2 separate regions of the Homo sapiens genome follow, and region 2 is linked to region 1. The links come from fine-mapping of genetic effects on gene expression. A gene starts in region 1. The other region holds a variant in brackets. All regions are shown on one strand. Distances are between the middles of the regions.

Region 1 (4,354 bases):
CTGAAGCAGCTGCCCAACCACCGGGTGCTGATCATGAAGGGGGCGGGGCACCCCTGTTACCTGGACAAACCAGAGGAGTGGCATACAGGGCTGCTGGACTTCCTGCAGGGGCTCCAGTGAAGCCCAGCACTGCTGCAGGGGGTGGGCTGCCTGCCTGCTCTGAGCTCTCTCTTGCACGCTCTCTCTTCTCTCCCAGGCTCTGGCTCATGCACATGCAACAGGTGCGTCTGTCTATATGTCTGGGTTCTTGTCTTTTGTGGTCTGTTTGTCTTTTCTACCTCTTTCTCTTGCAGTGATAGACTGAGGGGGTAAAATCAAGAGAAAAAACTCTCAGGAATCAAGGAACATAATCCTGTGGAGGGTAATCCATTACATGAGCTTCTCCTGTTCTTCCACTTTCCTGCCTGGCTTTCACTCCTTCCCCTGCTCTGCCCAGCCTTTCCCTCCCACCCACTCCTCCTTCTGCAAATGCCCTGAAGGCCAGCCCTTACCCCAACACCCACTTCCCCACCTCCTTAGGCCCCAGATACATACATGCCCACATGCACGCTTACATGTTTAGAGCCATCCTTGTTTCCAAATATGACCCTTCGCTTGAGGGCAACTGCATAGGTACATCTAACTCTGGACTGGCATGCACATTGTCATGTGCAGCTTTGCATATACACACATGCATACATGAGCCTCCACACAAGCACTTGCACACATGTGGACTCCTAACCATGCTAACCTCACTGGCTGGGAAGGTGGGGACCCCATGGGCCAGCCCTTGCAGGAGGCCCTTTTGCAAGGCTTAGGGTGTGGCCAGCCCTGAAAGCTACTTGGACACAGGTTTCAGCTGGCCCCAGCCCAGAAGTGACCCCCAGAAAGGGAGGGCCACCGCTTTGCCCCCTGCTTTTACCCTTCCTTCTGGGTGCTCTACACCTCAGGTTACCAGGCCTGAGGCATCTCAGCCAAGCTTGTTTCCTGCTCTGAGGCTTGTGGGGTGGGAGCCAGAGTGGAGGTCGGTGAAATAAAGTGATGCAATTAGACCCCACCGGCTCCTGCTTCTAAAGAGCGCCGCCCCTCCCCCACCCCTGGGACCAACACTGTGGGCCCCTCCCCCACCCCGGCGGGACCAGATGGTCCCCCTGCCCTTTGTCCACCAGGCCAGATGGAGAGGAAGGGAGATTGGATTCCCCTCCCCACCCACACATACCCAGGTGCCAAGAGACTCAGCTGTGGGGGGAGGTGGAGGTCAGTGGGACCAGGCTGAGCCGATTATGGAGGAGTGGGGGGGAAGGAATAGTTGCTTCCCCGAGGGCGGGGGGTGCCCAGCGGACTTGAGAACAGTTCATCACCCCCACTAGTATCCCTTCCCCAGTAAAAGACTCAACGGAGCCCGTTCCTTGCGACCCTATCCCCAAAAGGAATTCCGGGGGTAGATTTGGGGTTATCACAGGATCGGGTGCACAGGGCCACACGGCTCTCAGGCCCCTCCTCCAGCCTGTCCTGCGCGGACGAGGGCCGGGCCATGCAGCTGTGGGTGGCCGAGGAGAGCGGGTCTTGGTGGGCGCAAGCCCGAGCGGAGGATGGCGCGCAGCGAGCAGAGCCGGGAGCTAGGCGGGGCGCAGGGTCCCAGCCGGAGCTCGGAGGGACGCGGGCCGGGAGCGAGGCGGAGCCGGGGCTGGCGGGGCCAAGGCGGGGATGGGGGTGCAGGGGGCTCGGCAGAGGCGCCGGGCGGGCGGCCCGGGCCGGAAGGACTGGCCTGGCGGGAGCGGAGGGGCTTGGAGCCGGGCGCAGCGCGGGCGGTGCGGGGAAGGCCGTGGCTGGGGACCGGGCTTCAGGCCGGACGCCCCTACCCCCAACCCGTGGGGCTCTGGGAGTGGCAGGGGAAGGGTCGCCCGAGCCCTCCAGGAAGCGGCCGCCGCTCGGGGCGCACCGCGGCGCGCGGGGCGGGGCGGGCGGCTGCGGCACTGGGGCGGCTGGGGCGGGCCCGCCGCTCTGTAATCGGATCCGGGGAGGGGGCGGGGAGGGGCCGGGCCGGGCGGGCCGGGGGGTGGGGGGGGGGCGCGGAGCCGGGCTCCGGGCCGGCCGGGCTCCGCGCCTGTCAAACCCCTCATTGTTCGCAGCTGATGTCACTCGCAGTTGTGAGCGGCCGCCTCTCCCGGGGACAATGTGGGACTGAGCGGCCCAGCCGCCGTGCCGCCGCCGCCGCCGCCGCAGGACAGCCCCAGCGAGGTAGGGCGCGGGCCGGGCGGGGCACGGCGGGCCGCGAAGTTTGGGGGTTCGCCCGGGGGCAGGGAGCCCGCGCCCAGATCCCTCGGTTGGGGTCGCAGGTTTGTGAGACTGCGAGGAACACGTTCTCTGTCCCACACCGCTGAGGCCTGCACAGGTGGGAGGCGCTGGTCTGCCAGAGGCGCCCTTGGCACCAGGGAGGGGCTTCCTGGACCTTAGATCCCAGATTTGAGGCCCCCATCCCACTCGCTGTTTCTGTCCTTTGCGCCTGCTCCTCTCTCTGACTCCTGCCCTGGGTTCTGGTTCTGCTCCATCTCTGCCCTCACTTGCCACTCCCCTGTAGCTCCTGGCTGGGCACACACTCCTTCCCATCCTCCGCAGTCGTTGGGGGAGCCAGATACAGACCTCCAGGCCAGGGGTGTATGGAGATGACAGCTGGGGGCTCAGAGTGGTCCCTCTTGCCCCATAGCTCTTCAGCCCTTCAGCTCTGACCTAGCTTCTTGGCTGGGGTCCTGGGGGGTGGGGGTGGGAGGCTCTGCTACTCACTTCAGCCTGGCCCTCATGCCTGCCTGGCCAGGAGAGGGAGGTGCCCGCCTCCTCTCTCCCCTATCCCTGGCCCGCCATCTTGAGACCTGTGGCACCCAGTGCCCCACCCGGCCCCAGCACCCAGGGGAGTGGTCTCCAAGGTGATGATGCACCCAGGGCCAGTTGCATTCCTTTCTCCCCACCAAGCCCAGGATGCTCATGTTCGTGCTGAACCAGCAGGACATGTGTCCCCAGGGGCTTGCCTTCCGCCACAAAGGCTCTTACAATCCATGAACTCCCTAGGAGCTGAGCTCCTGCCCTCCCTGTTCCCTGGGTCACCCTCATTGCCTCAGGACCAGTACCTGGGACCCTATTCTTTCCCCATCTGAAAAAATCCCCTGGTCTTCCCAGGTCCTGGAGCCCCCTCAACCTCCAGGGCACCCCCATCCCAGCCCCCACCCCCTAGCCTTCATCAGCATGCAGGCTCAGGCTGCCCAAACACAAGGGGATTGTTCTTCTTGCATGCTCAGGGTGGGGGGCTGGGAGCAGGCAGCCCACACACCCTGGCAGGCCCAGGCCACGAGGAGGCTGGCTTGCCCCACCCTGTGTCCCCAGACAGGCTGTCCACCCTCCCTACTCCCATCACTGCTGCCCCTCCAGCCTCCATCACCATTGCCCAGTGGCGCTGACATCTTGAGGAAAGAGCTCTGAGCTGCACAGGTAGACCCCTGGGTTCTCCAGCTCTGCCAGTTGTCTCCCATGTAGCCTTACAAACATTTCCCTTCCTCTCTGGGCCGCGAGCCCCTCTTGTGATTGGTAAGACCTTTCCAGCTGTGACAGGCTGAGCCCAACTCGACTCTGTGAAACGTACCCCACCCCCCAGCCCTTCTTCCAGTCCCCCTCTTCCATGAGGAGACCCACTCTGCTCCCACCCTCTGAAAACCTAAAGCACAGCCCAAATCCCCCACCCCAGCAGCATACCTAGGGAGCTCCTAGTCCTGGTAAAACGGCAGGAGTAGGGCTGGGGATGCTGAGAAAGGAACCAGGAATCCTGTCCAGGCAGGTCCTACCTCTGCCCATGTGGCTGGCCCTCATGTCTGGGTCTTCTCACTCTACTCTCATTACTCCTCCGGGACCCTCAGCCCCATCTTTGGTTCCAAATGTCCCCAGGCCCCATGAACCTTAACTCTTCTCCCTGCACACTGACCCTGGTCTTGTCTCAAATTTCCTCTTTCTGGAGCTCTGTGTATAGTGGAAAGACAGGCTCAGAAATGCCCAGCGGGGACTTCTTTGAGTTGCAGCAACATCTTTGAGGGGCACAGAGGCCTGAGTGATCACATCTGACTTGGAAGCCTGCGGAGGGCTTCACAGAGGAGGTGGCGTTTGAGAAGGATTTTGACAGAGAGTGGGGAGGATGGGCGTTTTGAGCTGAGGTAAGCCTGGAGAAAGGCCCGAAGGGCTGGAGGTGCTAAGTGTGTTCTGCAGCCTGGCATGTGTGAAGGATGGGGTGGAGATGAGACAAGAGAGACAGGGGCTGGATCATGAAGGTCCTTGATGGCCTGTCTGTGGAGTTCAGGCTTTATTCTTTGGGGACTGGGCAGCCATGGGTGGC
Region 2 (4,404 bases), 150 kb before region 1:
TGGGAGGAGCACGGGGATGAGGTGGGAGAGGCCCTGGGCATGCGGACGAGGACTATTCCAGCAGCCTTGAGTGTGAGGACTCTGTTCAACTGGGCCAGATTTGGGCTTCCACCAGCAGCAGCAATAGTGGCCCAGGTGTCTCAGCCTGGGTTTCTAACAGAAGTCATTTTGTAGGAATCTCATTTGGTCGCAGTCTTCTGGAGGTGATGGTAAACAACCAAAAAAAAAAAACCTTTTGCCTTTAGCAACTACTTGGTTTTCTTCACTTAAAAATTGGAGAGTGTTTTTGCCTTTCCTGACTAAAGGTTTTCCTGGCTCTGGGAGAATATCTGGTCAGTGGTTTGGTGGCTGACCAGTGTGGCTCGACTTCTCAAAGAGCTCATGGGCACCATAGCCATGCCCCAAGAACTCATGAATCTAATGATCCTCTGCCTACATCAGCTCTGTCTGCACCCTGGGCCTCAGGCCCTGAAGCCTTGTGAAATACTCCTGGGCATTTGGGGAATCTAGGAAGCCCATCGGGCAGGTGTAGGTGTTGAATTCCTCACCATGTCCCCATTCCAGCGTAGCAGTCGAAAGCCAGAGGGGCAGACCCTGCATGGACCCCTTACTTTACTTACCCACTAGCAGACCACGGCAAGGGCAGCCCTGTGAGCCTATGATGGTCCTTCTGCCCAGGAAAACCCCCTGCCCATGACCCTTTCTCTGACTGCAGTACTTCAGCTCTCAGATCTTGGAATGAAGGTTGTCCTTGAGCCCACTCTGAATAGAGCTCTGTTCACTGCAGAGCTATTTTCAACCTCTGGTTGAAATTCACAGCTTATTTTTAGGCACATTTCATGTTGAAAAGCAAAAGCCATTTCCCAGCCATTCAGAATGAGAATAATGGGTTCCATTTTCCCTCTATTCTTGGCTGAGTTGTGCATGAGGAGGGATTTCAGGGCTTGTGGCTGGGGAACCTTCTCTACTTAGAAGGTTGCAGATGAAGGATTCCAGGCCATGCTCTGGGCTGAGGGTGGACAGAAGCTCCATGTTCAGCCTTGTGACATGCTACAAGGCTGGGGGAAGGTTGGAAGAGCCACTTGCAGGCAAATGAGCACCTCCCAGAGGGGCTTGAGGGTGGGCAAGGGATGGGAGCCCCTGGGAATTGTCTGCATTGGGTGCCCGTGCTCGTGTTTTCAAGGGTCTAGTGCTTAGCTCTGTTCCTGCCACAGCCCTGGCCCCTCTATTCTTGTCCACCCTCTTGCTGTCTGTTCTTTGGGGCCTGACCCCGAGGCATAAAGACCCCTGTATCTTGGCTGATCTTGAATTTAACACCTCCCAAACCCCTGCCACTATAGGACGGACTTCTGCTCAACCACAGAAGCATTTTTTAACCACTTTTTAAATAGCAAAAATGCATTTGCTTGATTGACTTATTTTTGCCCTCCTTCCAAATGTCTGAGGGCCCATTATGCAATGGGGAAGAAAGGTTGCGCTGGGTGGGGTGGGAGGAGAACACAGAGTTCTAGGTAATTCAGTGAAACGGGAGGAAAAAAAAACCCACTTTCTGAGTTCTAAGGGTTGGCTGCTGTCCGGTTCACACATTAACCTTGAGTTCTAGGGCTGAGTGCTTTTCTCCACTCACCTCTCAAGATCTCATTTTAAGGAGGAAAGCTCATCTGTGGTTAAGAGCCTGGGTTCTAGCTTCCAGCCAACCTGTGATTAAATCCTTTCTCTACCCTGCCTGGGGTGTGGTCCTAGGAAAGTGGCCAGACGTCTGTGAGGCACGGTTTTCTCTTCTGTCGTTTGGGGAGAGGCTGGGCCCTCCTTCGTGGGATTTCATGCGTGGTGCATCTGCCTGGCACATGACAAGTGCTCATCAAGCTTTAGCTATTTTTTTTGAGTCAGGGTCTCACTCTGTCACCCAGGCTGAACTACAGTGGCGCAATTGTGGCTCACTGCAGCTTCAACCTCCCAGGCTGAAG[C/T]GATCCTCCTGTCTCAGCCTCCTGAGTAGCTGGGACTATAGGCGTGTGCCCCCACACCCAGCTAATTTTTTTTTTTTTTTTGAGACAGAGTCTTGTGCTGTCACCCAGGCTGGAGTGCAGTGGCACAATCTTGGCTCACTATAATCTCTGCCTCCTGGATTCAAGAGATTCTTGTGCCTCAGCCTCCCGAGTAGCTGGGAATACAAGCGTGCACCTCCACGCCTGGCTAAATTTTGTATTTTTAGTAGAGATGGGATTTCACCATGTTGGCCAGGCTGGTCTCGAACTCGAGAGCTCAGGTGATCCACCTGCGTTGGCCTCCCAAAGGGCTAGGATTACAGGTGTGAGCCACCGCACCTGGCCTAATTTTTTAAATTTTTTGTAGAGAAAGGGTCTCCCTGTCTTGTCTAGGCTGGTCTCAAATTCCTGGGCTCAAGCAGTTCTCCTGCCTCTGCCTCCCAAAGCATTGGGATTATAGGTGTGAACTACCACGCCTGCCCCACCAAGCTTTAGCTACTTTAAAAAGGGTTCTTTTCCCCTCCCTGACTGAAAGCCAATCCAGGAGATTATGTGTTCAAAACTTGCTGGGGTGAGGGACAGTGGGCAATAATGGGAGCACTTATAATTTTCCACGTTGACCCCTCTCTGCAGGTCATCGTAGTGAGGGCCAGTGAGGTTTCTAGACCCTTGCAGGCATCAAAATTGTGTTTCCTGATGGCAGACCCAAGTCCCCTGTGCTCCCAGATGAGAGAGCAGATCTGTGAGTGGGTGGAAACAGACTTGTCCTTCTGCCACAGGATTCCTCAGGACAAGATGCCCAGGATCCCCAGAGCCTCAGTGCTTGAACTGTCCTCTGGAAGAGGGAGCTGGGTCAGTTGAGAACATCTGAACTGAGCCTCATCCGTGCCGAAGGATGGTCTATTTCTTCTTCCTAGTTCCTCTGATACTGAGAGTAAAGCACCAGCCACCTCCTGTGCTTGTCCTTAACCTCCCACATTTCCATTTTTGGGGCACTGCCACAGGGGTGGGCTTCACTTAGGGATTTGTGGGACCCTGATTCCTGGCCCAGAGATTCTTGGCACTAGATCTTCCCTTATGCTTTGGATCTGGGGGTCCTGGGTGCCTGTGGATTTTTAAGATCTGGGTTCTCACTCCAGGTGCCTTGCCTGAGGAATTAGAGAGTTGGAGAAACAGGGAGAGGAGACCCATTTCCACCTCATCTGCCTCATAGATTTTTTAAAATTATTTGTATACATTTCAGAAGTACAAGTGCAGTTTTGTTACCTGGTATATTGTGTAGGGGTGAAGTCTGGGCTTTTAGTGTAATCATCACCCAAATAATGTACATTATACTGGTTAAGTATTTTCTCATCCCTTGCCTCATAGATTATGTGTTAGTCTGCTCAGGATGCTATAACAAAATACCATAGACTAGGTAGATTATAAATATAGAAATTTTATTTCTCACAGTTCTGGAGGCTGGGAAGTCCAAGCAAAGCACCAACGGGTTTAGTGTCTGGTGAGGGTTTGTTTTCTGCTTCATAGATGGCTCCTTCTCACTGTGTCCTCGCGTGGTGGAAGGGGCTAGCTAGATCTCTGGGGTCTCTTTCATAAGGGCACTAATCCAAACCTGATGGCTCCACCCATATGACCTAATCACCTCCCAAAGGCCCCACCTCCTAATACTATTACTTTGGGGTTAGGATTTCAACACAGGAATTTTGGGGGACACTAGCCCTCAGACCTTGCAGCAGATTTGCTTCTCATTTGGGAGGACTTGGGTCGCTTAATGAGAACACAGATTTATGGTTTGGCATTCACTTTCTGTAGAGGGGAGAAGTGTGGGTTCAACGGATTCTTAGCAAGAGCGGTGTTGTAGGTGTTTGGAGCAGGAGTGAACCCCAGATTTATATGTCTTAGAGAAGAGCCTCTCCCTTCTCCACTTGACCCCAATCCTGGCACCTAATTTTTTCAAGACCATTAAGGTTGGTAGGATGCAGTGACTCACGCCTGTAATCTTAGCACTTTGGGAGGCTGAGGCAAGAGGCTGGCTTGAGCCCAGGAGTTCAAGACCAGCCTGGGTAAAGTAGTGAGACCCCCATCTCTTAAAAAAAAAAAATACTATTAAAGGGAACTGTTGGCTTCCTGCCTGCTGCAGGCAAGTCAGAAGATGCCCAGGCAAGTTACCCAACTTGGAAAAGGCATGGCTTCATGGAGCCCAAACCCCCGACGCCTCAAGCTGCCCGTGCCCTTGGGCTCAGGGCATCTCTGGGGGTCAAGATGTGCCTGTTAATGTGTTGTGGCTCTCACTTTGCTCACACCCTTTGGCTGAATAGCTGGCATTGCCCACAGTCCTTTTTATCGGTGTGAATGAGAGCTTGATGGAAATGGCAAAGCAGACCCTCTTCTAAGGGGCACCATTCCACCTCGTGTGGCT

What was found. PIP is the estimated chance that this variant, and not a neighbour inherited with it, causes the effect. A credible set is the group of variants that fine-mapping cannot tell apart.
Region 2: its variant is the best candidate, but not a certain one, in a credible set for the expression of PCBP4 in whole blood (TOPMed, PIP 0.60).

The regions. Positions count from the first base shown.
Region 1 is chr3:51,965,192-51,969,545 of GRCh38, reverse strand. It overlaps PCBP4 (poly(rC) binding protein 4), which reads left to right and starts at 2,092. Exons shown (of 14, transcript NM_001174100.2): 1 at 2,092-2,220. ABHD14B (abhydrolase domain containing 14B) reads left to right here. Exons shown (of 4, transcript NM_001146314.2): 4 at 1-1,031. The coding sequence ends at 120. RefSeq lists enhancers at 436-997, 998-1,561, 2,688-3,249, 3,250-3,813 and silencers at 1,523-1,602, 1,633-1,912, 1,923-2,032, 2,133-2,402.
Region 2 is chr3:52,114,832-52,119,235 of GRCh38, reverse strand. All of the region lies in intron 9 of POC1A (POC1 centriolar protein A), which reads left to right. Among named protein-coding and RNA genes, the nearest start is that of POC1A, 37 kb to the left of the region's middle. The variant C/T (reference allele first, on the strand shown) is at 1,968.